7 linked regions of the Homo sapiens genome follow. The protein of the gene in region 1 interacts with the protein of each later gene in a pairwise test. Each region holds a gene or a part of one and is shown in the gene's direction. Other genes may lie near its edges.

Region 1 (3,500 bases):
TTCTAACAAATTCCCAGATGCTACTGCTGCTGCTTGTCCAAGGACCATCCTTTGAGAACCACTGCCTTACCTATCAGTGTGGACGAGCTCCTTCCTGAAGTCAGATGTGTGAGAGGAAAGATCAATACGTACAGAGAGAGAATTCAAATATTCAACTGATTCCACTGGAAATAGGAAGAGGAATCCTAAGATTTGACTTCAATATAAGCAGATTCCTGAGGTTTCTTTGGGATACATTCATGGCAGCCAGGCACTTAAGATGTCTCTTTTTCTGTGGTCTCTGTGTAGCTCCAACCCCAGCCCCTAGACAGAGCTCTCCATCCAAATCATCTGCATCCCATGCCAGTGATCCTACCACAGATGACATCTTTGAAGAGGGCTTTGAAAGTCCCAGCAAAAGCGAAGAGCAAGAAGCTGTAAGTGACCAGTTTGTTATTTGTTTGTGTTTTTCCTTAAAATTAAGACCTCTGTAACTGAAATGGATAATGCATGAGGAAGCCTACATAGAAAAGAATGCTGGCTCAATCTCATAAGTTCTCAAGGGGTTGCTAAAGGGGCTTTCTTTTGTGTTCAAATGAGTCAGCTGAAAAGGACTGCCTTTTTATTAAATTGTTACTACAAGTCCACATTTGTGGTGTAGCATCCTCTAAATGCCGTTGCACCCTCCTTTACAATAACTGATTGTGCTGCATGAAAGTATATCCAGGTGTCTTATATTTTCAATGCTTGAAAAGAGAGAAAAAAAAAAGTATTATCTTCTTGTGTTCTAGCCTGATGGATCACAGGCCTCATCCAACAGTGATCCATTTGGTGAGCCCAGTGGGGAGCCCAGTGGTGATAATATAAGTCCACAGGCCGGTAGCTAGATAGCGCAGGTCTGGGTAGGTATCTGTCCTTTTTATCTCCTTTACCCTTAAGCTATCTGCTTTCCCTTTTGGTTGTTCTTCACTTCTGAAGCCACATCCTCAATGTTTGCACCATGTCTCCTTGCCTGAGCTGTATTGCTGATGTTTGCACCATCGCTCCTTCCCTGAACTGTATTCCTGATGTTTGCACTATTTCTTCTTGCCTGAGCTATATCACCAGTGTCTGCACCATGTCCCTTTGCCTGGTGTCTACGTTCTACTTTGCCTTTTCTCATGGATGCATGACCTTTGACATATCCTGGGAGGTAGGGGTAGGGGTGAGAAGTGGGAACTGATCATATTATTTTATTAATAATATGTTCTGCGTGGTTGGTGGTGATAGAATGAGGCATGGTCCATGCTACTTAGCATGCATTTAGTTTCTGGAAGCATCAACATTTTGAGATGGACACATTCTGCCCACCCTGATAATTTCTCAGTGAGCCATGGTCCAGATGCTTTAATCTTTTAAGCAAAATGTCACTGCATTTGCCTACAGTCTGCAGATCTAAAGAGGTCACCAATCAAACACACAGAGAAGCCAGACTAAGAAGCAAAAACAAGCAGTGCTTGAAATAAGATTGATCGAGATGTAAGATCAGAGGAAGCCCTTTTCGTCTAGCCAGAAAGGACCCTGCACCCTGCATCCTTTCTGATGTGAAATTCAAAGCCCAGAGATGTGTAGCACTCACTTCTGAGGCTGTGCTGTTTGCACCTGTGCTGCAGCATGTGGATTGCCACCAAATCACTTCAGATTCCATCAGCAGCTACTTTGAGAGAGATGTACTTACATTTACTAGAAGTGGCTTTTGGCACTTGAATTTCAATACATCTGATTTGATCGAAAGAAAGAGGAGCTGATGAAGCAAACCTTCTTAGGAGACAGAAGTACACCTTGTTACCCAGACATGATTTCTAAGGTCACTTCTTGACAAACGTGTTCAATTTTCAGATACCTTCTTAGTTTTCTATAAACACACAGGACTGCAAGGCCATTCCCAAAAGGCTCCTTTTTTAAGTTCTGAACAGCATGGTCAAAACCATTAAAATGGTAAACAGTTTTCTCCACTCATAAATGGATTCGGAGGCTACCTCATAAATGGATTCTGAGGCTACCTCAGAATTAGTCTTAGCCCACACGTAAGTTAGACAGTTACTGAAAGCTAATATGGTATTTTGAAAGTGTATTTTGTTAACAGGTATTTTTATTAAAGAACCTAACACACTGTGTAGGTTGCCACATTTTGTATCAGTGCAATAGCACATAATAATATGTCATGCCATGCAAAACCACCTACGATTCACTTAGAAGTTCACTCTTGCAAAGCTACTTCGGGAGTTGATATATTGAAAGCAAAGTCAATGTTTCAGGAAAAAGAAAAGTTGGGGACTATAGGCAGACTCCTTGGGATGATTCCCCACGAGGTATTTTACCCCCCGCCTAAGTTGTATTTCACGTGCTCAACCTTGCCTTGAAAAATTTGGTGAATAAACTAGAGGTGACAAGAGCCATTCATCAGGATAACAGCAAACATCATCCTAAAATTGAAGTTCTTCTAGAAAACAAAGATGACTTACACCATTTGCAGATCAATGTATTAAACCCTCATCTTTATGAACCTGTTCAGCTTGAGACAATCCTACAAGCCAAACTGTTTCATGGGGCTTTGGTCTGTTCCACATTTAATGCTCTGTCCAGTACCCCAAGCCACAGCTGAGCTGTAAATGGACATAGCATAGTAGTGTGGGAAGAACTCAGGATTTGGACTTGAGTTTAAATCCTAACTCAGCTACTTAATAGTGGGAAATCTTGGGCAAGAACCAAAATTTGAGTCTTGGTTTCTTCATCTGCTAGAAGGGGCTTATATTCTCCATAATGGTAACTGAGATAGTTTATGTTGAGTATCTAGCGCAGAGACAGACACTGAGTAATCAGCTTAAAATTCAGCTTAAAAAAAATATCTAGGTTCTGGAACAACATTGTTTGAGTTCAGCATCTGGCTCCACCACTTCCTGGCTATGTGACACTGCTGTGATTTTATAATTATTCTCTATCTTATTTTCTTCATTTGAAAAATAAGGATAAAAATAGTGTCCACCTCATAGGGTTATTATGTGAACTAAATAAAGTGATATATGTGAAGCTCTTAGCACTGTGTATAGCACATAGAAAGCACCTAATAGATGCTAGCTACCCTCATCATCACCATCACCATCATCATTATCATCATCATTATCATCATCACATATATCCAATTAATGCACGCTCCCCACTCTCTTGGATTTTATACATTTAGCTTTCATGTATAAGACCATTGGTTGGGAGGTTTTGCTTTGTACTTTGTCTTCAGATAATTAATTTTCAATATGTGTCACAACAGCTTTGGAAGGGAAAAAAAGAAAAAAGCCTGCTGCTTAGCTCTCTGGCTTGCCCCACCCCATAATCAGAATGGCCCTGGTTTGGGCCTCACACAGCTCACTGCCAAAAAATGGGCTGTCTTAGAATCACATGCAAGTCAAAATAAGTACCTCCCAGCTCCAGAGGAGGGCTGGACTGTAATCTTCGGTGAAGTAATTTTCTCCCTTTGAAAGCTT
Region 2 (3,500 bases), on another chromosome or scaffold:
TCATTAGTCATTGTTGGACACTTTGGCCATGCTTAATATAATTCAGTACTGAATATGTATTTCAATGTGAGAGTTTTTGACATCAACATTTTTAACTTTTGTCTAATTTATAATCTTAGAGTTAATGGAAATCAGTGCCTCTATAACTATGGTTTTAACCAGCTAATAAGTTGTCTTCATGATCTTTAGCTTCTAAACAATGAATAGTAGATACCATTTTTTGTTAAGATCTGTGTCTGAATTGAAAGGGATCAAAGTGTATGGTGAATAAAGCAGTAGAATGCAAATCAGAAGATATAATATTTAACATGATTAGCTAGTGTTAACTCTTGCTGTCCATCAGTTACATAATTAAAATTTTTATTCAGCACTTGATTAACATAAATGTTTCTCAATTTTCTATCTTTGTTCTACAGAATGGTAGATAACGCAGATCATCTCTGGAAAGGATATTGATCCGCCTCATGTAAAGTATGCTTAGTTCCTTTCCAGTGGTGTAAGTATCAAGTCCTTTTTGATTTTTATCTTCACAATCATTTTAGTAAAGTTAAGATGTCACTATGATTATGATCCAGATTTGACAACAGACGTTTGTAGAGTTGAAAAGCTTTTTTAGAAAATGAATCAAATGTTATACCTATTTGACATTAAGGTGAATAAGTGTCATGATCATGTGGTGAGAAATGAATTTTTAAATCTATCAGCCTTCTCTTACCATTTCTGTTTTCAACTTTGAATTTTAACATTAATTTTAAATTGAATATAAAATTAATTATTATTTTTAACTGCTTAAAGCTTAGAAGCATCCAAGATAGATGACTAACAGTTCAAGAGAGCTAATATTAGATTCCTTGTGACAAGCAGACTACTGGAAGCATACATCTTCATGTTGCCTTTTGTGTAAAAACTCCTAGCACCTTAACCATTTTCCTTTACCTGCTGGGGGCATGATGATGTAGTTAAGCCTATTAGCTGATGTGCTAGCCTTTCTTTGGAGTCAGGCAGAAAATACAAATTGAGATAGTGGTATTGTGTTGAGAGTGTTTTTGTGCTAGGATATGAACTATAACCACCAGTTCATATTAAATAGGCCTTTGAATAAAAGTATTCCGGGAATTTCAGATATTAGAGAAGACAGAGTATCTATTAGCTCATTAAGTGCATCTTTAGAGTCGAATGCAGAGTGCCTTTAGCATAAGTATTTTCTAAAATTTGATGGAGTCTCCACTTTGCTTAAATTCCTTCCGTTTTGGTTGACAGTTCTATAATACAGTAAGTAAACATTAAGAGAGATTTTCCTTATTATTTAGGCTTTTCATTATAGTTCCCCCACCCCCACCCCAGTAGATTCTATGATATAGTGAAAAGTTTCTGGAACAGACCTAGAAGATGTGAACTGTAGCCCGACTTTCTGCTAAGTAGCTATATCCTTGGGAAGGCACTTCACCTCTTTGGGCCTTAGTTTCCCTCCCCACTTTTTAAAAAAATTTATTTGCTAATGGCTATTTTCAATCTATCAGCCTTCTCTGTTACCATTTCTATTTTCAACTTTGAATTTTGACATTAATTTTAAATTGAATATAAAATTACTTATTATTTTTAACTGCTCAAAGCCTAGAAGTTTCTGAGATAGATGGCTAAGCATTCAGGAGAGTTAAGACGTCTAATGGCTATTGAAAATAGTAAGATGTCTAATAGTTACTGAAATGAATGTAAGCATCATGAAGCCATGAATTTTTGCCTGATTTGTTCCTTGTTGTGTCCTCTGTGCCTTGCACAGGATCTGTTACATAGTAGGCATTCAATAAATGTTACTTAAATGAATGATTTTTGTCTAAGTGATCTCCAGTTTTCTCATTCCACACCTAACTTATATCTCCCTTTATAAATGTGCATGTTTGTACTTGGATTTTTGTCACATATGGTAGAAATAAGATGATCAAAGTATGATTTCATGAATCACAGTGTTTATTGCCATACAAAGAGAATTTTTTCTTGGGTTCACAGTACTTAAAGATGGGGAGAGTAACATAGACAGACTTCACAGGGAATACACTCAATAGATGAGGTACATTAACCACATTATGAATGTGTTCCAAAGCTATTAAAGTGTCTTTGCTCAATTATGATGAAAGGAGGCCTCTGTGTTCAAGTGAAGGCTAAAGGTGGAGGTGTACCTTTACATGAGCAGTTCTTGGGAGAGGCTGGCTTGACCACCATAGCTGAGATCTGAGACCACAAGGAAGGCCCCTCAGTGCTAGAAAATGCTGGCCTGCAAGGTATAAAAGCTTTGAGGCCTGTTGCAGCCTGAGCTCTCTGGTTTTGGAGAAGCTGCTGACAGAGAGTAGCCCTGCCACAGCCTAAGCTCCCAAAGTGTCTGTTAAGCTCTTGAGTGTATATGTATTTTGAAGTCCAGTAGTTGTGACAGTAACTCACATATGCAGTTTGACATGAGGTGACATTCCTGAGAGGATGGAGAGTTCTCTCTCTGATAAAAATATTGTGATTGACCCTAGAGTGTGTTAAATTAGCATGCAGTAAATATCATGTATGCAAAACAAAACTAACCTATTTTGCCTAGTCATTCTAGATAATAAAAATAAAGACAGCAGAATTGAGCTGAAGAAAAAGCTGTTATCCAATAAAATTTTACTGTTGGTGCTTTACAAGTAAGATAGTAATGTCCTTTTTACCTCTGTGATTTCAAGATTAATTATTTGTGAATGCTTTAATCTTCTTTGCTCTACATGTTTGTAGAATTTAGCTTATGAAAGTATATTCTAGACCTCATGCCTTATCCAAGAAGGGTTTAGGTACATATTCAAGTCAGGATAAAATGTATTGTGAAAAGTTATTATTATGGTCTTATGGTATGATATTTTCTTAGAATATCAGTTTATGAACTGAGCCATAATTCCTGAATTTAATTGTTCTTTTATGCCTTAAACACTGTCTGTTATTACAGTGGTGAAATTCTTCTCACATCATTTTCAATTATTGTTGGCCTGAGTCTGCATTCAGATTAGTAATTTAAAGTGAAAGATGTTCCTTATCCTCTGAACAATCCTTGTGCATAAGAAAATTAATTCAATTCTTACATGTTATCTTTTTCTGTTATAAAAGAATTGCTGGTATCATGGACTTAGATGACCTTTGTAGGTCATTTACTGCCATAAATTCGTGATTATATGCTTAAACTAGGTAAATTATGAGAAATAAAATTGTGAAATGCCGGAGTATATGCCTTTGTTTATATTAATACACATTGGAACATTATTCTCAATATCCAGGAGAGCTTCTAGACTCAGCGTTTTCTCAGTAAAATATTGTATCTTCAGTGTCACATGCATGCTTTGATCCTGTTTGTTATGCTCTTAATCACTTTGCTTTGTAGTGATCATATGAATGATCATTCTAGCAATTGTGGATCATTTTGCTTTAGGTTATATTTGCATTAGGAAACTCTCAGTGCAGGGCACAGACATCTAATTTGAACAAGG
Region 3 (3,500 bases), on another chromosome or scaffold:
TCTTTCTGAGCCTCATTGCCTCACCAGGGACACAGGAGCTGAGGCTGCTTCCCTCTTTGGAAAGCACTGAAGCCCAGGACTCGGCCCACAATAGGCCTTCAACAAATACCACTTCTCAGCTTACGGGTGAAATATGGCACCGGAAGTAATGCTCTTGGCTGTGGGAGCTACAGACAGCAATGAGGTCTCTATCAAACCCAGCCTCCTCTCTCTCGAGAGGAACCAGTGGGGATACCCTACCCCTCAACCCCAAAGCCTTGTGCACCTGAGGGTAAAAATCTGGGTGCCACGGGCTCAGGAAGGCTTGCTTGGGAGCAAGAGGGAGGTGGGTGTGTCTGGGGAGGCATTTCTGAGCACAAGAGCCTCCCTGGAGTTCTGCCATCGTCTCTCCCCGTTCTGTGGTGCCCGCAATAACCACCGTTCTGACTCTCCTCACCCCTCCAGCCTCCCAGCGTGCGGCCTGCCAACCCAGCTCCCATTGTAAGTCTCTTGCTTTCTTTTTGGATCCTCTTGATTTTGGCTCTTCTTCTGGGCTAATGGAGGATGCAGGGCCAGGCATTGGGCCTCTCCCATCGGGAGTGGGGAGGGCAGAGGCCAGGCCCTTGACCATCTACCCGGCCTGGCGAGGTTGGTGGGTGAATGTGGTTGGCTGGCCGTGATGGAACAACCTGAGTTGCCACTCCATGGGCAGCCACGGAAGACCATGCCCCACGTTCACTTCTCTCACCTGCAAAGGGAGGCTAGGCTGAGAGACGTTTCCCCGAGAGGAAAGATGGGCCAGAGCCACCAGCGTCCCCATCTGTCTTCTCCAGGGTCCTAACCTTTGCCTCTCCCTCGTCCCCTGGACCCACCCTCCGTGGGGTCTGTGGGGCCACTGGGCTGGTTATGCCCCTGGAGGGTGCCTGCCGTGTGGCACCCTCTGGTGGGAGCTGGGGTGGTCTTTACTCAGGAGAGCCTGGGTGAGACCTGGTTTCTTTCTTCCAGACCCAGACAGTCATCCACACGGTGCAGAGTGCCTCTGGACAGATGTTCTCTGTAAGTCTTCAAGTTCTGATCAGTTCACAGCTGCACAGTGCCCTCCTTCCCCAAGAACTAAACTCCCTAGAGCCCTAGAGTTGGGAAGAAAGCGGTTTAGCAAGGAGGGTGGGGACATCTGGGGCTGAGTCCTTGGCTCAGGTGACATGTGGTTAAAACTATCCTTGGGACAGCAGAGATTCTGGATTTATCCAGTGGTGGAAGAGGCAGGTTCCCTAGAGACTGGGAGGGAAACTGGTCCTTCTGTCACCAAGTGGGGAGTGCAGTGGCCCCAGCACCCGGATGTGAGGTTCCTGGCCCTGCCTCCTGGGTCCCCGGGATGTCACTACAGATCACAGGCTTAAGCTCTTCTCCTGCTGGTGCAAATCAGGCCGGGAACTTAGCATTAGTGGGGCTGCCTGCGGAGGGGCTGAGGGGCAGGTGACCATGGTGGGGTCTGGGAACACGGCAGGAAGTTCCAGGAAGGCTAACATGAAAACGGAGGTTTACGGGAGAGTCCAAGGGCCAAAGGCTCATGAGGTCAGCCTCACAGTGGAGCCCCCTCTAGAATGCGTGGGTGCGCGTGGGTGAGTGCTCGCGCACACATGCGCTCTCCCATTGAATTTCCTGGTTTCTTTTCAGCAGACTCCCGCCATCCCACCTATGATGTACCCCCACCCTGCCTATGTAAGTGGTTTCTCAGGGAGGGCAGAGGTTCTGTTTGTGGTGGGCAGGCTAGGGATGAAGGGCCGCTACGGGGGGATCCGCTGGCCTTGAAAAATGAAAAGCGAAGGGCTTTCAAAATGGTAAGCTGAAGGGCTTCAAAGCGTCCCAGTGAATTAGAAGACTGTGGAGAGGAGCTTTCAACCTTAAAACTGTCGTGTCAACGTGAGCACATTGCATGGCCCTCCCTTTTCACCCCACGAGTCTTTCTTTCTGTGTTTGGCCAAATTTCCTTTCATGACACTAATCTAAGCCCATTAATTTGAGGAGCACCGGAAAGTTTTCCTTTGGCTTTTATGGAACCAAGGAAAGATATCGTGGGCTTCTTCTCAGCTGACAGCCTAAATTCATGGGAACTGGTACAATCTTCCCCTTCCATGTGGCGGCTGCCCTGACTGCCACTGGCTGACCTGTCCCCGTCCTTCTGACAGCCGATGCCTTTCATCACCACCATTCCGGGAGGGCTGTACCCATCCAAGTCCATCATCCTGTCAGGCACTGTCCTGCCCAGTGCTCAGAGGTAAGCCAAAGGCTCCAGTGACCTCTGGGAAGAGAGAGCCCTTCAAGGTCATTCCAGCCATTCCCCTGGCTTTTGGCAGGCTGGGGATGATGGGGAGGAAATGGGGCTCAGAACTCAGTGGACAAAGGTCCAGGTAGGCTGCCCACCCCAGGTTCCACATCAACCTGTGCTCTGGGAGCCACATCGCCTTCCACATGAACCCCCGTTTTGATGAGAATGCTGTGGTCCGTAACACCCAGATCAACAACTCTTGGGGGTCTGAGGAGCGAAGTCTGCCCCGAAAAATGCCCTTCGTCCGAGGCCAGAGCTTCTCGGTAAGGCGCCGCAGCCTGGAGCTTGAGGAGGCTCCTATGGGTACACGGGGAGGGGGTAAAGGAGGTCTGGGGTACCTTGAACAGGATGGGAGCTGATGCCTCTGGGATGAGGGCCCAGAAGAAAAGGTGGCCAAAAAATTATTGTCATTATTATTAATAATTATTACTGTCCTGCATGAAGGAAGCGTTGGGATCTGCTTTTTTAGATGAGGAAAGAAACTCACAAGTGCAGGTTACTTGCTTGCGGTCACACAGTCAGTAAGTGTCAAATCAGACCCAAGAAGGAGGTGTTATTCATTTCTTCACTGACTCATTCAACGATTTCACTGTCGCCCGCTTTGTGCAGGAAGCACTCCACATGCTGGGAGCGCAGTCATGAAGCAGACACGTAGGGTCCTTCCTCCAGAGAGTTTACAATTTAGCTGGGGGAAGGAACAAGGAAACTAAAGCATGAACAGATTGTTGCAGATAACAACAGTGCCACGCAGAAAGCAAAACAGAGCGATGAGATAGAGCGAGCCTGGGAGGGGCAGCTAGGGCCAACATGCAGAGGTGTGGGTGTGGCCTCTCCAGGAACAGCAGCAGGCGTGCTCCGCCCTGACTACACATTCAAATCACCCAGAGAGCTTACAAAGAACATATAGGTGCTGGGACCCCAGCCCAGGCCAATGAGGCGGTCAGCCTGGGCATTTGTATTTTTAAAATATGCCTGAAGTGATTACACTCTGCAATCAGAGTTGAAAATGACTGATGTAGGGCTTTGCAGCCATGGAGCCAGGGAGCAACATTCTTTGATTTGTGGACAGCTGTGTGACCTCGGGCAAGTGACTTAGCTACTCTGTGCTTCAGTTTCCTCATCTACAAAATGGAGCTAATAATCATATGAATCTCCTAGAGCTGTAAGAATGGAATGAGGCAGTATCTGTAGC
Region 4 (3,500 bases), on another chromosome or scaffold:
TTGTGCCACTGCATTCCCGACTGGGCAACAGAGGGAGACTCTGTCTCAAAAAAAAAAAAAAAAAAAAAAAAGCAGCATCTTCCTAAGGGCTGTTAGCTGTATAATAGTGTCTTAAATATTTAGACTTTCAAGGCAACAGTCTTCCAATTTGTGACGTGAAAGTTCTTCAAGCGTTATGCAGGAATAGATAACCAATTTCTAGATTATCAACATTCATATACAATTCTTCCTAAAACAAATCTGATGAGAACTTGCCTACTGGTCTCCTTTTCTACTTCCCCTTTTCTAACAACGCTTCTCTAATCTCACAAAAGAAAGGTATACCTCTCACCCATCTCTAACATACCTTAGTGTATTGTCCTCACGTATAAAAACCTAGATGGCAGAATAGTGGTGTTTGTGCTGAGAAAGTGAATGGTCATAATAGTTTTGTTTGTTTGTTTTGAGACAGAGTCTCACTGTGTCATCCAATCTGGAGTGCAGTCTCAGCTCACTGCAACCTCCACCTCCTGGGTTCAAGTAATTCTCCCACCTCAGCCTCCCCAGTAGCTGAGACTTCAGATGCACACCACCACGCCTGGCTAATTTTTTGTATTTTTGGTAGAGATGGGATTTTGCCATGTTGCCCAGGGTGGTCTCAAACTCCTGAGCTCTAGCAATCCACCCACCTCAGCCTCCCAAAGTGCTGGGATTATAGGCATGAGCCACCATGCCCAGCTGGCCATAATTTTTTAGAGTAAAAAATTTTTTTTTTGAGACAGAGTCTTGCTCTGTCACCCAGGCTGGAGTGCAGTGGTGCGATCTCAGCTCACTTCGACCTCTGCTTCCCAGGTTCATGTGATTGTGCCTCAGCCTCCGGAGTAGCTGGGAGTATAGGTGCGTGCAACAACACCTGGCTAATTTTTTGTATTTTTAGTAGAGACTGGGTTTCACCATGTTAGCCAGGATGGTCTCGATCTCCTGACCTCATGATCTGCCCGCCTCGGCCTCCCAAAGTGCTGGGATTACAGGCGTGAGCCACCGCACCCAGCTGAGAGTAAATTCTTTTTTAAGGTTTTTCCCTCAACAAAATTGAAGATGACCTAATTGAATTGTCAATTAAAAAGCATATTTTAATGGAATATTATTATGTGACTTGTGGCATATAACAGATGGAATGCAGAGAATCGAGTGACATGGAAATAACAAAAGTCTTTCCATTCCAATCAATCTATTTAGGTTAGGGTTTCTCTAGGTTAAATATGTAACACTTAAGAATTAAGCCGGGCACGGTGGCTTACACCTGTAATCCCAGCACTTTGGGAGGCCGAGGCAGGCAGATCACGAGGTCAGGAGATGGAGATCTTCCTGGCTAACACAGTGAAACCCTGTCTCTACTAAAAAGATACAAAAAATCAGCCGGGCGTGGTGGTGGGCACCTGTAGTCCCAGCTATTCGGGAGGCTGAGCCAGGAGAATGGCGTGAACCCGGAAGGCGGAGCTTGCAAGGGAGCCGAGATCGCGCCACTGCACTCTAGCCCGGGTGACAGAGCGAGACTCCGTCTCAGAAAATAAAAATAAAAATAAAATAAGAACTAAGCCGGGCGCGGTGGCTCATGCCTGTAATCCCAGCACTTTGGGAGGCCAAGGCGGGTGGATCACCTGAGGTTGGGAGTTTGAGACTAACATGACCAACATGGAGAAACCCCGTCTCTACTAAAAATACAAAATTATCCAGACGTGGTGGCGCATGCCCATAATCCCAGCTGCTTGGGAGGCTGAGGCAGGAGAATCACTTGAACCCGGGAGGCGGAGGTTGTGGTGAGCCGAGACTGCACCATTGCACTTCAGCCTAGGCAACGAGAGCGAAACTCCATCTCAAAAAAAAAAAAAGAAATTAAAAATAAGAAATAATTCCCAAGGAGCCATCTCTATTGAAAAAATAAAATTTAAAAATAGGAATTTAATTGATGCCAAACCTGGTCACATTCTACCATGAAGAAATATTTATTTATAGATACATAAACTAGAAAAAAATCTGTCATTAAGAAATGCATTTCCGGACTGGGCACAGTGGTTCATGCCTGTAATTCCAGCACTATGGGAGGCCGAGGTGGGTGGATCACTCGAGGTCAGGAGTTCGAGACCATCCTGGCCAACATGGCAAAACCCTGTCTCTACTAAAAATACAAAAATTAGCTAGGTGCGGTGGTGCACCCTGTAATCGCAGCTACTTGGGAAGCTGAGGCAGGAGGATCACTTGAACCCAGGAGGCAGAAGTTGCAGGGAGCTGAAATCACACCACTGCACTCCAGCCTGGGTGATACAGTGAGACTGTATCTCGCCAAAAATATATATATATACACATTACCAATAAGTTTGTTTTAATGTAATAGTTATTAAAATTTATACTATCAGCCAAATGCTGTGGCTCATGCCTGTAATCCCAGCACTTTGGGAGGCCAAGACAAGAGGATCACTTGGGGCCAGAAGTCTAAGAACAGCCTAGGCAACATAGCAAGATGCTGGGTTTTTTGGGTTTTTTTTCAACTTTCAGTTATTTATTAATCAGTGTAATCTCCAGTAGATTACCTCAACATGATTTCATGCATTTAGAGGAGAAATATTTCCTGTTAAGTGGAAAATTGTGCGGATGGCTTCTGGAAGACCTTCATTCTAAAGGAGCTTTATAGTAAAACATTTCATTTAGAAATCTGAACCTTCTTTCTTCAATTTGCTGTAATCCACATTCACTGAGTAGAACTTGTATTGATCATTGGGACCCAGTTTGTTCAGGGCTCTGGGTTAGTCTTTCTGTCCCAACAAACATCTGGATTGAACAATGTCAGAGGCGAGAGAAACAGTGCTGCTCCAATACCTCCAGTTCCAATAAATACAAAAAGGGGGATCAACTTCGCATGCTTCTTGGCCTGACCCATGATCTGGCGGAGAATGTTTGCAGCAGAAGCCTCCAACTGGAAAGGAGACAACCAGCCTAGCCACCAGGCCCTGGGCTAAGTAGTATCTGCCAAGACCCTGTTTCTTAAAAAAAGGCCGGGCGTGGTGGCTCACACCTGTAATCCCAACACTTTGGGAGGCCGAAGTGGGTGGATCGCCTGAGGTCAAGAGTTCGAGACCAGCCTGACCAACATGGTGAAACGCCATCTCTACTAAAAGTACAAAAATTAGCCAGGCATGGTGGCGGGCACCTGTAATCCCAGCTACTCAGGAGGCTGAGACAGGAAAATTGCTTGAACCCAGGAGGCAGAGGTTGAAGTAAGCCAAGATCATGCAACAGCACTCCCACCTGGGCGACAGAACGAGCCTCCACCTCAAAAAAAAGAAAAAGTATCAGCTGTTAAAAATGTTCATATGTTCTTATGTGAATAATAGGTATTAAATTATTGTAGAACTTTTTATAATATGTATATAATATGCCCTTTGCAAATATTAAAACTTAGAATTGCAAGTATGAGTTTTCCAGAAATTATTTTATTAGGAATGTAAGCAAAAAAATGTTTG
Region 5 (3,500 bases), on another chromosome or scaffold:
TCTTCTCTGCAGTCCCCCAAAATTATAGTTATCCAGTCTTGTATTTAACAAGGTTTGAGATTGCTTTAGCTAAGAACTTCTGTAAAAAGGCTATTTAATGTCACAGTTTGTTCTAACAACTAAACTCCCTTCTGCATTCTGATACACACATGAACCATTTTCAAACCATGGTCTTCCCAAGATAAGGCTTTCCACGTTTAATATGATGAAAGGGCAAGTGGTTATTCTCTCTTTGAAAGTACTCATAAGAATTCTGATGGATAAAACAAAATAATTTCCTCTAACACCAGGCAGACTAACCATACAAAGGCATGTTGCTGACTTCCTTCTGCATCAGTTGGTTGAGACCCGTAGTGTTGCTCTCCATAAGTAATCCTGTATCAGAAAATAGCATATCCCAGAAACAAAGTGTATTTTAGATGTCTGCTTATCAACTCTGGTTGAATGATTTTAAGAACCTAGTTTAAGTTTCCGTAGGGGTAATATGATTACTCAGGATGCATTCGTCTGCAGTATACTTCATGTTATGTAGGTTTTCCCACCTTTTCCAACATTTCTCCAAAAGTTATCCTTCTCCCAGTTTAACTGCTAAAATGCCATTGGTAGGGTCTTTGCACTTCAAGCCATCTTGAGGAAAAGCTTCCTTCTGAGAGTTAGATCATTTGGCAAGGGTCAAGAACAGAAAGCTGTGTTTTTAATCTAAAGGCTAAGGTCAGATTTATTCTTAGATTTCTCTTCAGATTCATCTGTACTTCAATATCTAGTTTCCATAGCAACTGAGATGCAGTTTGCAGGTGGGTAAGAAAAGAGAAATCTTTAGGTGTAAAGAAACTTATTTTTTAACCTAGAGAGAGAAGGTATCAGGCAACACCTTCATAGTTTTTATAGGCTAAAGCCTATATTCTTTTTTCAGGACTTCAATGTTTCACTGATAGGTGTCATTTCCTTTTTCCTGAAGAGGCCATTCAACTCTTCTTGACACAGTCGCAGAAAAGATTGCTGCTTCTGTGTTCTGTTTAATCACAGTCAAACTAATTAACTAACCAATTTAACAAGACAGCTAAAAGAACTTATGTGGAGAAATTATAGTTACTAGTAGAATTATTTCTTTTCAAATGGAATGTCTCTGCCTGATAATAGCCTTTTTTACAGGAAGTAGGTAGTCTCTTGTTCAAGTGTGACTGAAAGAATGTAGAATAGTACTTATGTCTGTGTTCTTAGTCTAACTGAATTTGGGGTGTATACTTGAGACCTGTTGAGTCACTTAGGTGGAGAAATGTTGGAGGGAGAGAAGTGCTATCACAAGTCTGCAACCACTAAAATGATAACATTAAAGAGATGCTCTAAGCACTTAAAGCATTTTCAGAGATGTGTAGCACTTAAAATGGAAAATTTATTTTTTTTAAGTTGTTGAAGCTGGAGGAAGTTTAATGTTTTGTTTTGTTTTAAATTATAGGAACTGCCTTCTGTTGAAGAACTCACTATTATTCTGCCTGAAGATATTGAGTTAAAGCCTCTTGGGATGGTTTCAAGTATTATTGAACAACTAGGTATGTTAAGAATTCTATTAATAAAAATTGTTTCCAAACACACACTAATAATTGAATCAATGACTTTTATGACTAGTAAATTTTCTTTGACATACGTAATTAACACTTTATTTTATAGTCATTAAGTTTGAAGGGATAAAATTCAGTTTTCATATACTAAAATTATATATAAATACAGTTTATTTATAGAAATTTAAATGTCTGCTTTTACTGACATACTTCCTCCGGAATTTCCTTTGATTTGGTTTATTAGTTTTCTAATGTTGCTATACCAAATTACTGCAAACTTAGTGACTTACAGCAGCACAATTTTATCATACAGTTCTCATGTGGGTCTCAGTGGGCTTAAAATCAAAGGTGTTAACAGGGCTGAGTTATTTTCTGTAGGTACTAGGGGAGAATCTTACTTCCTTGCTCTTTTTGGGTTCTAGAGCCTGCCCACATTCCTTGACTTTTGGCTCTCTTTCTTCATCCTGAAGGCCAGTAATGTAACGTCTGTCTCTGAGCCTTCTTCCATTATCTCACCTCACTCTAACCACATGTGGAAAGGTTCTCTGCTTTTAAAGACTTTTTAGATTGAGTTTACCTGCATAATCCAGGATAATCTCCCCTATCTCGTGGTCCTTAACTTTAATCACATCTGCAAAGGCTCTTAAAAATGTAATGTATTTACAGATTCAGGTATTTAGAGTGTGGATATCTCTTGGGGAGCCATTCTGCTCACCACCTTTGATTTTGTCTTAAAAACATGTGAGAAAGTTTTGTAATTTAATACTGTTATTAATGGCATGAAATATGAAGTTGCTGAGTTATAAGAGAACTTAATATTTTAGACTTCTTTAGCCCCAACATGTGAGTTTGTTCTGTGAGATTCTTGTTAATATAGGTACTATTAACTCGTAGTAGGATATGCTGGAGAATAGAACTCAGCACTGACAAAGTAATAGGATTTTGGAACTGTGAAGAGGACCTAGATTGCCCACCAGCCTCCACAGGACCTGAGGAAACAGAAAAATTCAAGTCAGTTGCTCTTAGGACCAGTTGTATAGTGAGTCAGTGGTAGAAATAGGACCTTTTTCTTTTGACTTTTTTCTAACAGTGTCTATATTGATATTTTTAAAAATTAACACTTACATAATTTTGTACTTTTTCAGTTTATTAATAAAAATGTAGATTAAAATGAACCTTCTTTTCAAAAATAATAATTAAAATTCTTTCCGTGATTCTGGAATCATTACATTTACTAGTTTTAGAGTTATGGTATTTAATAATATATATAGATAAATCAAACAGGCAACTAATTTCTTGATTATGTGGTATGATTTAAACATTTATTAGACTTGATGTATACAGAAAAATTTTAGGTCATAATGTTGATCCTCAAAAAAATAAATGTAAACTCTGACGTACATGGAATAATGCATGTCATTTTTGCATTTTTAACAATACTATTTTGACTAACATAGACTGAAAAAATTCTCAACCTAATGGGAATAAAGAGTAAATGGGTCAAAATCAGCACATGCTACTGTTGCAGATTTTTAATAGAGATTTTTAATAGAGACAAGGTCTTGCTACGTTGCCCAGGCTGGTCTCAAACTCCTGGGCTCAAGCCGTCCTTCCTCGCCAGCCTCCCAGAGTGCTGCAGGCGTGAGCCACCGTGCCCAGCCTGAAGTATCCACTGTTAAAATTAATTGAGATACAAAAGAAATTGTTTGAATTAATTTTGATAATCTGAGGTAATATATTTTATTCCCTTAGTTGACATGGTATTATCTATGTAATGTAACAGTGTTCTTACTTGTGGCTCTGATGTTCTAAAAACTTATTGAGAGTGTGTTTGTGTGTGCGTGTGTTTTCTCTTTGTTATGGTAGATCAGTTCTTTAATATTTGTGTCATTTAAAAGAACTGGAGATTTGGAGATTATGTTTTTGCTTTTTGAGGAGGGA
Region 6 (3,040 bases), on another chromosome or scaffold:
AACTTTGAAGTAACATTTTTTAAAATGTGATACAGTCATTCTGAAGCTTTTTTCTACCCAGTAATAGTTACTATTTGCTGAACATTTTTTCGATATACAACATACAATTATTAGAAAACTCAGTTAACCCAGAGAAGTTAAGTAACATGTTCAGTGTATAAAGTCATAATGTTATCAGAATCAAGATTGAATACATGTCTTTGTTGGCAAATCCCATGCTTCTTTTTCTGAATTCTCTATTTTCCTTCTATTTCCAATTGAATTCTAAATTATAAGAGACATTTCTCTCCTTTTGGTTTCTGAAGCACTGTTACTGCTTTAAAGGAAAAGAAATAAGCTATCTTTTTACTGTTTCAAATATTTTGCTTTTCCTATGAAGACTTCGAGATTTTTGCTTTCTACTTTTTTTAACTATGGAAATTAGTTGTTTTGAAGCTGTCTTTTTGTAATCTAAGTATTTGAAAATGGCTTTGTTCCTCACATTTAATTATTTTATTAACAATATATTTTTTCTTTAAAAAAACTTTCTAGGTGAGGTTAAACTCAGACCTGAAGCTAGAAAACGACTTCTAAGTTATATAAATGAAGAGCCACTAGATGCTAATGGGTATTTCAATTTGGGAATGCTTGCCATGGATGACAAAAAGGACAATGAAGCAGAGATTTGGATGAAGAAAGCCATAAAGTTACAAGCCGACTTCCGAAGTGCTTTGTTTAATCTGGCTCTCCTGTATTCCCAGACTGCAAAGGAATTAAAGGCTTTGCCAATTTTGGAGGAGTTACTCAGATACTACCCTGATCATATCAAGGGCCTCATTTTAAAAGGAGACATTCTGATGAATCAAAAGAAAGATATACTAGGAGCAAAAAAATGTTTTGAAAGGATTTTGGAGATGGATCCAAGCAATGTGCAAGGAAAACACAATCTTTGTGTTGTTTATTTTGAAGAAAAAGACTTATTAAAAGCTGAAAGATGCCTTCTTGAAACACTGGCATTAGCACCACATGAAGAATATATTCAGCGCCATTTGAATATAGTCAGGGATAAGATTTCCTCATCTAGTTTTATAGAGCCAATATTCCCAACCAGTAAGATTTCAAGTGTGGAAGGAAAGAAAATTCCAACTGAAAGTGTAAAAGAAATTAGAGGTGAATCCAGACAAACACAAATAGTAAAAACAAGTGATAATAAAAGTCAGTCTAAATCCAACAAACAATTAGGAAAAAATGGAGACGAAGAGACACCCCACAAAACAACAAAAGACATCAAAGAAATTGAGAAGAAAAGAGTTGCTGCTTTAAAAAGACTAGAAGAGATTGAACGTATTTTAAATGGTGAATAACATTAATATTTATCGTGACAATGGTATCAAAGAACATCAATCCGTATCATGTGATTGCTTTTACTGGGAGCTTTGAAAAAAAGTTCAAGGGTTCCTAATGGTCAATCATGAGCTGCCTTGAAGTAGGATCAAAATAAGATTTTCATTAAAGACCTGTATTATCCCAGGATGTATATTATGTATCGCTGTTTTCAGAGTGTGGGTGAATATAGCAGAAATATTACAGCGGAAGTGACAAATTTACAACTTTTATTATAGAAAGAAGGTGTTTCTGGCAATGTAATCTTTACTGCTCTCAATTAAAAATAATTTTGAGGCCTGAATGATAATCCCTTGAGGACAAATCCAACATGTGCTGGTTTATTCTGTTAATTCCCATTTATTTGCCTACTTCATTTTTCTTGCACCTCTTAGAATCTAACTATGAATTGAAAACACTTAAGTAATTCTGTTTAATCAAGGGATTTACACTACAAAAGAATGCTGGCTTTTTTTATGTTGTATTCCTTAGTTGAGTTTTAGAAGGAATGCTTGATGAAACATTTTAAAATAAGTCATGACATGTTAGCTTGAGAATGTATTTTCATAATTGTATACTTGTTTTTAACTTTAAATGTAATTTTTAATCAGGTAAAGTTTGACACATGTATAGCTACATACACACATTTTTAATGGTGCTCATATATACTGTATTTTTTGTTGTTTAGTTTTACTTATTGAGAGTGTCACAACATGAATCACATAATCATGATTTTTTTTTTTTACTTTTACTCCCCAAATTATTCATGTTTCTTAGATCGTAGTCATTGAGAAGTCCCAATAACTCTAAACTTTTGAGTTATAACGTAGTAAACTTCTCTTTCATCTTTGTGTTAGCTCTGTAGTCTTAACCTGGATTTTAATTTTTTTGTTTCCAAAGTCACAATTGAATTATTCTTAGATACCTTAAGCCACTGAATTCAGTTCTGTTTGACTGAAAGCAAAACAACGTGACAGTTTATTTTCAAACACTAACTTCTTGATATTTTGTTATGGTATATCTTTTTATTAAATATTTATTTTGACTAAGCTTTCATAAAATATTTGAAGCTATTTTAATCATCAAGTATGGAAAACAAATTACTATTGCATTTTCCTATATATGCATATATTATGGATTAACCAGAATTGTATCATTTTTGGCCTAATGTCTGGATATAAAAGATAATTAGCCTACTATAGTATTAATAAATTTTTCAGTTGGTTTGGGCAAATTTAAACCTGAAAAATAGGTTAAAAAGTAGTTACAAATTAAACTTACTAATTTATACCTGATTTTTTTTCTTGAATTAAAGTACATTTTAAATGAGCTTTATAATACCTTAAAAAGTTGGTTCTAATTTAAAATATGAAAGCTCTGGCTATCATCCTGGGATAGTAATTTCTAATTATATAGTATTTCAAAACTATATATTTTTTAGTTCCTTTGAGATAACTAATTTCTAATTATATATGTTTCAAAAACCATATCCTGTATTTTTTTTAAGAATTGTTTTATAAATAGGTCATAAGATACAAGGTCTGCATTAGAAGACCCACTCTTACTAGGTTCCCTAAGGATCTGCCATAGATTTTTTTTTTTTTTTTTTTTTTTTTAGGTAGTTTAAAGCAAGCACTGATACCAGTGGGAGTTGGTCTTGATCTAGGAGATTCTGTTA
Region 7 (3,972 bases), on another chromosome or scaffold:
ATTTCCCTTCTTTTCTCTCCTTTCTGCTCCCCTTGTACTGTCTACTCCTTAACTTGGTCAAATTCTACTTGATCCAGAACATAATGGGATGGTGAGTGCAGACGACACACACGGCCTCAGTCTATGGGAACATCTCAAAGGAGTTCGTCTGCAAATTCTAGTGCATCTAGGCAGAACACAGGAAGGAAGAGAGGTGCAGACTCACGTATGGCCTGGGGCACCTGCCATCCCCTCGAGCCTGTATGGTCCTTACCCGCCCATCCCCAGCTTGAGTTCTGGGCCTTCTCGCCAGCACATCGTTGGGACCTGGTCAACTTCAGGTAAGTTTATTTCATGGCTCCCTCTCCCCTCTGCAGCCTATCCTGTTATTCTCTGTTTCAGCCAATTATTTCCCCTAACTAGGTGCTGAAGCCAATTAAAGGCAGTTCATGCCATATGTTCCTTCCCACTCCCATGTCACTTGAAATGTTCTATTATGTCCAAGACTTCTCTCCCCATCCTAAAGCTCACAAAATAAGGATGGAGAAGAGAAGAAAGAGAGATTCACTGAGGGGGAGGATCAGAAGCTCCTGGGCACCCCATACTCTAGAATAAAAATCTTCATTATAGTGTTTTTCATGCAAAATATTCCCTTCTACATAATTATGTTTTAACATGAAGAATAGAAATTTAAAGAGGAGAAATACTTCTTGAAGATTCTGAGAATCTTCATATAGCTCAGGCTGCCACGAATTAGCTGTGTGACCTGGGGCATGTCCCTCAGACTCTGAGCCTCAGCTTCTCTATATGTAAAATGGGTTGAAGCCGCCCTTCCCCACAAGCACCCTGTGCACAGGCAATGCCCAGCCCCATTATTTTCTGGAACCAGTGGCCAAGCATGCTTAGGACACCCAGCCACATACTTCTGGGCAGTGTCATCTGGCAACTCACTGTCATGTCAGTGTGGTCAAGCATTGTAGACCTCTATGAACCAAATATGCTTCAGGCTGGGGTTGAGCACAGGAGAGGGAGGAGGGAAAGGTCACTGGGGCTGGGAGTGCCTACTTCCCTCTATGAGTGTCACCCCAGTTCACCCAACACCCTACCTTTCTCTCTCTGGACCCACTTCCTCTTGCTGCCGGCTCCTCCCCATTGAATAACAGCCAAGTTGCTTTGGTTTCTATTACTTTGTTAAGTCATTCCTTCTGCAAAGGACTGCCTGGCAGGTGTGAAAGGCAGCGGTGGCCACAGAGGCGGTGGAGATGGCCTTCAGCGGTTCCCAGGCTCCCTATCTGAGCCCAGTGAGTTCCAGGGCCGTGGGCACAGGGCTGCCTCAGCCAGGGGGACACAGTTATGGGGCTCTGAGGAAGCAACTCCTGGGTGGCAGGAGACAGGGGTGGGGGCATCCCAAAGAGAACACAAGCAGGGCAGAAATGTCAGTGGGGGTCGTCCTGGCACAGCTGTGCCATGCTGAGCTCACTCATGCCTGGAGGGATGCTCCTCCCATGAATCATGGGTTTGACAGTGTTGGCTGAGCTGTCGTGTCCTGTCCTGTGCGCTCAGGGGAAGAGGTGTAGAGTGGGATGGTTTGTGTAAAGAGGAAGCAAGCATGCTTCTGGGACAGTAAGGATGCTACCCGGCATGGTAGTTAAGGGTGCGTACTGTGGAGTTGGCCTCCCTGGGTCCAGCTATTTACTGGCTGGTGGTCTCTGGGCCTCAGTTTCCATATCTGTGAAGTGGGAATAATACTTGAGCCCCCCACTCCCAGGGTTGGGATATGGATTAAGGAAGTAGTGTATCTAGAGTGTTTGAACAGTGCCTGACACACTGTAGGTGCTTTGGGAGTGTTTCATGTTATTGGGAGTCTGGGGGCAGCAGGGAAGGCCTCCCGAGGAGGTGTCTGTGCTCTGAAGGGTGAGGCGGAGTTAACCAGGCATAGGCATGTCAGGGCATCTGTAGACGGACAGTCTCAGAGGTGACGGAGGCAGGGACTGTCCCTGCAGTGTGGGGTCAGAGGGCTGCAGGTGCCTTGCTGAAACTCTGTGAGGTTTATGAGTCCCCTTCATTCACGGAAAATCCAAGGTTCAGGGAGGCAAAGGCCAGTTGCCAAATGCCCCCAGATGGGAGTGGCAGCCCCAGGAGCCCAGGAGCCTTCAGGGGTGACTGTGTCCTGGGCTGGGTCCTGTCACAGGATCTCACCCTGCCTTGGCAAAGAGCTTCCCGAGGGGCTGGAGTGGGTGGGCTGATGGGCCCTTCCTGAGTGGGGAGACAGAATGGGGAGGGTGGGCAGAGGCAGGGTGCTGAGGGCAGGGAAGCTGCCAGGGGCCACCTCAGCAGAGGCCAGGGTCGGGCTTGGGTGCCCTCTGGTGATACTGAGTCCAGAATGAGGCTGCCTATGTTCTGGTCTGCAGAGCTCAGCTCTGCTTTCTAGACTCCAGAGAGGAAGAATGGAGAAAGGAGGCCTGTTTCCTCCTGGCTGTCACCAATGACCCCTCAGCCACCCTATGGAAGCCCCCAAGGTAGAACCTGCATAGAGGGAGTGGGGGAAGCTGGAACGGGCTGCCGGTGTTGGGCGAGCCTTAGAGTCAGCGTATGCCACCTTGAGCATGTCACCCCGTTTCTGGTTTTCTGCCAGAGAGGGGATCCCAGAGCTTCTTCCAGGTTCTGACATATTATTATTCTGGTAACTGGTTTTTACTTTCTAATCTTTGGATTCAGAAGGAAAATCCTCCTATGCACATCAGAGAGTTTGAGAGAGTTAAAGCGGGGCCTTGGAGCTCAGACAAGAAAGACGATCAGTGCAGCCCCCACAGGTGTCCAGAGCTCCCCTCTACCCTACGGGGGCTCCCCTGGGTTGGGACACTTGAGCCTCACTCGGTGACCCATCTGGCAGTCGGAGCCACGCTTTCTCCACATGCCGACAGTGGGGGAAGGTCACGCGGTTCACTGTCCTGCTGAGGAGGGCTGAGTGCCATGAGGGCCTGGCTTGGAAACCTCACTCCCACTTCTTGTCTGGCCTCATCTAGCCCAGCCTCTTTGGAGGGCTGGGGGGAAGCTGGAACCACCTGCTGTGTGGCCCAGGAAGCACTGCGAGAGCCAGGAATAAGGACGTTCCGAGCTTCCTCATGAGAGGAAGCCTGTGTGGTGGTTAGAAGCGTGGGTGCTGGGGTTCAAATCCCAGCTCTGTTGCCGACCAGCTGTGTAGCTTTGGGCAAGTGACTGAACTTTTCTGTGCCTCAGTTTCCTCATCTGTAAAAGTGGCCGGGGTTGCTGTGAGGATAAATGTTCCCGGTCACCCCCAGAGCCCTCATGGACACACATGGATCCAAATGCCACAGCAGCCTTAGCTGGCCAACTTAAAACAACACATTTGTGCTTACAGTGTTGGAGGTCAGAAGGCTAAAATCAAAGTGTCATGAAAGGTGGCCAGCAGGACCGTGGAGCCTCTGAGGCAACAGGGCACTTTGGCTAAGGGCCACGTACTGGCTCCAGCTGGCAGGCAGTCTCGGCCAGCCAGGCTGAGCTCCCTACTCCTGGGGCCAGGCCTTGGTGTCCTCTGGTGATGCTGAGTCCAGAATGAGGCTGCCCACATTCTGGTCCGCAGGGCTCAGCTCTGCTTTGACTTCCAGGTAGGAAGAAGAGGGAAAGTCCCCGGTCTCTGGGCACAACCAGGAACAGAGAGCAAGTTCTGACTCAGCAGAGGGATTGATTTGTTCCATGCAAAGAGCTGCACTGTCAAGGCCGACATGGGCCAGAGGCTCAGCACATGGCATCGCACCCCGTCCTCTCAGAACGCTGCCAGCCAGGGACTCAGCACATGGCATTCCACCCAGTCCTCTCCAGAATGCTGCCAGCCAGGGACTCAGCACACAGCATTGCACCCAGTCCTCTCCAGAACACTGTCGGGTGGTGTTACTGCCCTGCCATTCAGAGGAGGGAAGTGGGGCACAGGCAGGTCAAGTGACTTGGCCAGTGTCAGAATTGCTAGTGTAC

Evidence for each region.
Region 2: the proteins of DAB1 (region 1) and HMBOX1 interact in binary tests that used the Homo sapiens proteins (3 or more experiments, as listed by UniProt).
Region 3: the proteins of DAB1 (region 1) and LGALS9C interact in binary tests that used the Homo sapiens proteins (3 or more experiments, as listed by UniProt).
Region 4: the proteins of DAB1 (region 1) and ZCCHC10 interact in binary tests that used the Homo sapiens proteins (3 or more experiments, as listed by UniProt).
Region 5: the proteins of DAB1 (region 1) and NAF1 interact in binary tests that used the Homo sapiens proteins (3 or more experiments, as listed by UniProt).
Region 6: the proteins of DAB1 (region 1) and TMTC3 interact in binary tests that used the Homo sapiens proteins (3 or more experiments, as listed by UniProt).
Region 7: the proteins of DAB1 (region 1) and LGALS9B interact in binary tests that used the Homo sapiens proteins (3 or more experiments, as listed by UniProt).

The regions. Positions count from the first base shown.
Region 1 is NC_000001.11:57,008,061-57,011,560, reverse strand, and holds part of DAB1 (disabled homolog 1), read left to right. Parts: exon of another isoform or gene 1-288; coding exon 289-416; exon of another isoform or gene 417-770; coding exon 771-866; 3' UTR 867-881; exon of another isoform or gene 882-3,500. UniProt on the Homo sapiens protein: Signaling adapter of the reelin-mediated signaling pathway, which regulates the migration and differentiation of postmitotic neurons during brain development.
Region 2 is NC_000008.11:28,963,395-28,966,894, forward strand, and holds part of HMBOX1 (homeobox-containing protein 1), read left to right. Parts: intron 1-416; 5' UTR 417-473; coding exon 474-496; intron 497-3,500. UniProt on the Homo sapiens protein: Binds directly to 5'-TTAGGG-3' repeats in telomeric DNA. Associates with the telomerase complex at sites of active telomere processing and positively regulates telomere elongation.
Region 3 is NC_000017.11:18,490,289-18,493,788, forward strand, and holds part of LGALS9C (galectin-9C), read left to right. Parts: intron 1-444; coding exon 445-480; intron 481-984; coding exon 985-1,035; intron 1,036-1,656; coding exon 1,657-1,701; intron 1,702-2,168; coding exon 2,169-2,257; intron 2,258-2,408; coding exon 2,409-2,571; intron 2,572-3,500. UniProt on the Homo sapiens protein: Binds galactosides.
Region 4 is NC_000005.10:133,002,550-133,006,049, reverse strand, and holds part of ZCCHC10 (zinc finger CCHC domain-containing protein 10), read left to right. Parts: intron 1-2,684; exon of another isoform or gene 2,685-2,953; intron 2,954-3,500.
Region 5 is NC_000004.12:163,146,391-163,149,890, reverse strand, and holds part of NAF1 (H/ACA ribonucleoprotein complex non-core subunit NAF1), read left to right. Parts: intron 1-1,456; coding exon 1,457-1,550; intron 1,551-3,500. UniProt on the Homo sapiens protein: RNA-binding protein required for the maturation of box H/ACA snoRNPs complex and ribosome biogenesis.
Region 6 is NC_000012.12:88,194,307-88,197,346, forward strand, and holds part of TMTC3 (protein O-mannosyl-transferase TMTC3), read left to right. Parts: intron 1-531; coding exon 532-1,343; 3' UTR 1,344-3,040. UniProt on the Homo sapiens protein: Transfers mannosyl residues to the hydroxyl group of serine or threonine residues.
Region 7 is NC_000017.11:20,464,740-20,468,711, reverse strand, and holds the start of LGALS9B (galectin-9B), read left to right. Parts: upstream 1-1,172; 5' UTR 1,173-1,241; coding exon 1,242-1,280; intron 1,281-3,972.